Linked DNA regions of Homo sapiens: region 1 is linked to region 2. The links come from fine-mapping of genetic effects on gene expression. A gene starts in region 2. The other region holds a variant in brackets. All regions are shown on one strand. Distances are between the middles of the regions.

Evidence for each region. PIP is the estimated chance that this variant, and not a neighbour inherited with it, causes the effect. A credible set is the group of variants that fine-mapping cannot tell apart.
Region 1: its variant is the best candidate, but not a certain one, in a credible set for the expression of KCNJ1 in spleen (GTEx, PIP 0.78).

The regions. Positions count from the first base shown.
Region 1 is chr11:128,807,776-128,810,592 of GRCh38, forward strand. It overlaps FLI1 (Fli-1 proto-oncogene, ETS transcription factor), which reads left to right. Exons shown (of 9, transcript NM_002017.5): 8 at 1,382-1,429; 9 at 2,684-2,817. Among named protein-coding and RNA genes, the nearest start is that of KCNJ1, 58 kb to the right of the region's middle. The variant G/C (reference allele first, on the strand shown) is at 1,541.
Region 2 is chr11:128,866,247-128,869,076 of GRCh38, forward strand. It overlaps KCNJ1 (potassium inwardly rectifying channel subfamily J member 1), which reads right to left and starts at 1,050. Exons shown (of 3, transcript NM_153766.3): 1 at 927-1,050. LOC107984409 (a long non-coding RNA gene) reads left to right here. Exons shown (of 3, transcript XR_001748442.2): 3 at 504-933.

The DNA.
Region 1 (2,817 bases), 58 kb before region 2:
ACAGGGCGTTGACTTTCTAGCTGGGCTCAGTTCCACTATCTGACCCAAAGTCTGCCTCCTGGAATTTCCACTCAAGCTTTTCCTTCTGGAGAAGCCTTCCTCCTGCTTCCTCCGAAATCCTTTGCATATCTGAAGACAGCTGCTGTGCCCAAGCCCCAGCTCCTCTCTCTATCTTCTTATGTGATGCAGCTGAGATGAAGTTCTGAACAAGTCATTTGCTTTGGGGTAGGCAAACATTGTTCCCCATCTCCACAGAAGGCAGAGCAAGAGAAAATCAACTGACATTTCACCTGGAAGGTTAAGAAAAAATTTGCTGACTGTGGATCATAAGTCAGATGTAGAGAGTTTTAAAGACTGTCCAATAACAACAAAATTATGCATTAGTCATCACCTGCCAAAAATAATTATCATATTAATGATGTGGATGAGAAAAGATGGTCTCAATGGGCTTAAGGACTTTTGAAGGTAATTTATGGTTCTAAGTAGAAACCCAAAAATCATAGTGATATTTTTAAAACTGCAATTATAGTTGAAAAATAGCAAAATTTTACAAAATACATGACAATTTTGCCAAGTCGAGACCCAGCTCTCTACCATGATTTCCTCAACTAACAAAAAAGGAGATAAACCTCTCACCTAAACCAGTATTGCAAAGACTTTTTCATGGCTAAATAAACACATACGTTTTGAGGAAAGTGAGATTTTAAGAATAGTCATTTTATAGCTAAAATGTACACTCTGGTTTGTGCTGACATTTCTGGCTTGTGTGACATTTCAAATCACAGAGTGTTATACTAGAAGAAAACTGAGGAATCCAGTAGCCCAACCCACTCATTTGTCAGATGAGAAAACTGATTCCCAGAAATTGTCCAACAAGTTATTTGTTTATCACATAGCTGCTGCTAAAACCCAGGCTGCTTGGTTTCTAGGCATGTGTTTTTCATGCTACATTTAAAAAAAAAAACAGATTAATAATGTTGTTAGTATTAGGTAGAGTTATTAAAGACCAGTAACCATGAGACCTGCTTTAAGCCCATGGAGTCAGCTGTCCGTTGTATCATTGAATATTATCCAGTTCCTTTCCAAATGTTTTCTTTGTTTTGCTTTGGGTAATGACAACATAATCTGCACATTTTAGATGCCAAAATAAGAAAAAGTAATCCTGTTCCTATTCTTTGTTCTTTCTGTAATTATTGAGATGAAGACCACAAATGTCATCAAGATCTTTGAGATCTGCAAATAAAAGCAGTAAAGTTTTCTGAAATCAGTCTTTCCTGTGATCTTGAAATAAAAGTATAAACCCTTATGGTTTTCTTATGGTTGGTACGGTTGTCATATTTTTTAAAAACACTGAAGCAAATTTCCTTTTTTATTTCCTTAGATCCGTATCAGATCCTGGGCCCGACCAGCAGTCGCCTAGCCAACCCTGGTGAGTTTACCTTGGCCTGCAAGCCTTTTTTGCCAGAATGTTTCGTAGCTTTGTGAAATCACAGAGACTTCTGTCCTAAGTCCAGACACCTGAGTGGGGAGTAACATGCAC[G/C]TCTTTCCTTGAAATGTTCAATGTCTGTTTCTGGAGCATGTGAACAACAGGTCAGGGCTTGTTATGAGGTGTCAAGGTTGGTTAGCTGAGGATACTTCTAGGAATAAACACATCAGCACTGCACATGTGCACTTAGGTGTAGATGAGTAATAAGTGGCACAGGTAGGTAGGCGTTTCAATCAGAGAAAATGGGCAAGAAAGAAAAGAAGACAACTCCACTCAGCTCTCAGTTGTCTCCCGCATGCCAGGCACAAGTTCATAAATATTCCAAAGGGTTTTATTTGTGATTTTAGAAAGTGTTGCCAAGTTATCTGGCCTTATAAAAGAGATGTGTCCTGGAAAAGTTGCAGATATAGTCAATTTGACCTTGTACTTTAAAGATTTAGTATCAAAAATAACTCTCAAGAGGGTCCTTCTAAACCAAGTCCATCGAGATTGGGAGCTAGCAGGCCCTTGTCGCAGTGTGGCCCACTCACCTTCCCATCCCAGGGACTCTGCCTACCCATTCCTTAGTGCCTGGTCATTACTGCCAGAGGAGAAAGCAGCCACCCAGCATATTCTGGGTATTTTTCTCTCTGCACAAGTTCTCTGTAGAACTTAGAGCTGCAAGCCAAGCTCTGGGCCTGCCAAGGGCCAATCCAGGTCCTGTCCATCCAAAAGCTAAAGCTCATGGCGCAGCTTCTCCCAATGACTCCCACAGTCATGCCTTGCCCCTGACTTTTTATTGCTGACAGGGAATTCCCTGGGGGACATGACCACTAATTAGAGATCAGTCAGTGATTCAGGCCTTTCTAGATGAAGAGATTCAAAAGCCTTGCCAAAGGGATTGAGGGGGGATATGGCTCACCCAAGATCACACAGCTAGTTCTGGGCAGAGTTTGCACCTCACTTCCCACATTCCATTTACCAGGCCTTGGGGCAAAGCATCTTAGGATCTAACCTCGCTTATTATACCCATCTCCAAGGCAAGCAGAAAGGCAAATCAACAATGACATAAGAAGGGCTTGTCAAGTCGATCCCAATGTCGAAGGAAACAAAAGGTTTCTTTAAAAGGATGAGAAGCTCCCTGCATTTAGGGAACTGGGTTCTGCCTTCTCTGGGCTGAGGTGTTCTGTTCTCTCCCGTTTGCCTCACGGCGTGCAGGAAGCGGGCAGATCCAGCTGTGGCAATTCCTCCTGGAGCTGCTCTCCGACAGCGCCAACGCCAGCTGTATCACCTGGGAGGGGACCAACGGGGAGTTCAAAATGACGGACCCCGATGAGGTGGCCAGGCGCTGG
Region 2 (2,830 bases):
ACGGAATGGCCCAGGGAAGGCAGCGTGCAGCTCGCAACTAATAATCCAGGTACAACCAGCAGATCAAAAGCATCCAGTGAGTGGCTCTGCCAAGTCCCTGTCCATAAAAGGTCCATAGCACAATCACTATGTTTTGCTCCATTTTGTAAGCCCAGCTAAAAGGAGAAAAATTCAATCATTTTTCCTAAAGATTGCTGGTTGCGAAAGACCAACTCCTTTTAAGCGTCTATGCACCAAATCTGTAAGATACAGATATTGGGAGAAGGGGCTCCATACCTGTTCAGAGCAGAGATAAACAGTTGGCATTCACTGGTATAGAGCAATTGTCACAACAGTCATTAGGAAGCTGAACAAATGTTGAGAAATCCAAATGTATCCATTCAGAATGGTGCAAAATTCCTATAAAGTCCTACATCAGAAAATGAAAGAAAGACATTTGGGTGAAGGTAATCAAAATGTCTGGCTAACTCTTGCCTTTTCCTGATATATGTTTTCCATAATAGACCCCACTAGCACCTTGATCCTCTACCTTAAAGATGGAAACGGCTTGGCAGAGGTTGTGTTACTAGGCAAGGTCTTGCTACAATTGAAAGGATGCCACCAGAGATGAAAACCCTACATACATCTCTGCCACCAAAAGAAGACTTTGGAATCAGGCATGATGCAACCAAAGATTCTTACTGCCCTCCAGCCCCAGGGCTGCGGAGTGACCCAGGGAAGGCAAGATGCAGCACACAGCTAATAATCCACATGTAACCAGCACACCAAAAGCATCCAGTGAGTGAGTTAAAACCATGCTTCTATCTATCCCCCAGGAGTGGACAGACAAGTCTGCCTAGATTTGAGGCGGGGAAAAGAGGTCTAAATTTTCACAAGAATTAACTTCTTTTTCCTACAAAGAGACAATGAGGTGTTTCTCCTCTTACCTCATGGATTGCTGGAGTAAATGTAGAAACAAAAACTCATTTTCTTGGTCTCCAAGAAAGCAACCAGATTCTCGATGTGAGCAAGTCCCTGCACCTTTGATGCAAGAGTTTGGATATGCTAGGTGAGGGTACCCGAGGCCCTGTTGATTTTATGAGTCTGTGGGCCAGCTCAGACCGGCTGCCAACTCATCTGTATGCAACAGTTCTCAAAGAACATAGTTTACTTTATAACCGGATCCAACAAGAGTAGGCGTGGCAGTTAAGTGAGTGAGATACCAAAGGTGTTGAGCTACCAAGGCTAACTAAGAAGGATTTGTTTATGGAACCCTGGCTTGGAACCAGAAGGCCGGTATGCTCATGTCGATGTGTCTAAGTCAAAGGCATGAAGTTGAACACGTGCGCACATGAGGCTGGATGTTACAGGGCAGGGAAGTAGGGGTCCCCAAGGAGCCCCTCACAAATGTCTCCTGTCCTGTGAATCACTCAGTGGCCCTAGAACAGCAGTCCCCAACCTTTTTGGCACCAGGGACCAGTTTCATGGGAGACATTTTTTCCATGGACCAGGGAGGTGGTGGGGGAGGATGGTTTCGAGATGATTCAAACACATGACATTTATTGTGAACTTTGTTTCTACTGTGTTTACTTATAATAATTACTTTACTTCTATTATATTCTATTATATTCCTTATTTCATTATATATTATATTCTAATATATAATGAAATAATATTCTATTACATTATATAATATTCTATTCTATTCTATAATATTATAGAATGAAATAATGAATATGGGATGAAATAATGAAATATTCTATTCTATTATAGAAGGAAATAATATTCTATTCTATTCTATGAAATAATATTCTATTATATTCCTTATTTCATTATGTATTATATTCTAATATATAATATAATATATATTATGTATTATATTCTAATATATTATATAACATATATTATGTATTATATTCTAATATACTCTATAACATATATTCTGTATTATATTCTAATATATTATATAACATATATTCTGTATTATATTCTAATATATTATATAACATATATTCTGTATTATATTCTAATATATAATATATATTCTGTATTATATTCTAATATATAATATATATTATGTATTATATTCTAATATATAATATATATTCTGTATTATATTCTAATATATAATATAATATATATTATGTATTATATTCTAATATATTATATAACATATATTACGTATTATATTCTAATATGTTATATAATATATATTACGTATTATATTCTAATATATTATATAACATATATTACGTATTATATTCTAATATATTATATAACATATATTACGTATTATATTCTAATATATTATATAACATATATTACGTATTATATTCTAATATATTATATAACATATATTACGTATTATATTCTAAATATTATATAACATATATTACATATTATATTCTAAATATTATATAACATATATTACGTATTATATTCTAATATATCATATAATATATATTATGTATTATATTCTAATATATAATGAAATAATTATACAACACCACCATAATGTCGAATCAGTGGGAGCCCTGAGCTTGTTTTCTTGCAACTAGACAGTCCCATCTGGGGGTGATGGGAGACAGTGACAGATCATCAGGCGTTAGATTCTCATAAGGAGCGCACAGCCTAGATCCCTCGAATGCGCAGTTCACAAAAGGGTTCAGGATCCTGTGAGAATGTAATGCCGCTGCTGATCTGACAGGAAGCGGAGCTCAGGCAGTAATGTGAGCCATAGGGAGTGGTCAAAATACAAATGAAGCTTTGCTCACCTACCACTCACCTCCTTCTGTGCAGCCTGGTTCCTAGCAGGCCACAGACCAGGTGTGGGGACTCCTGCCCTAGAAGG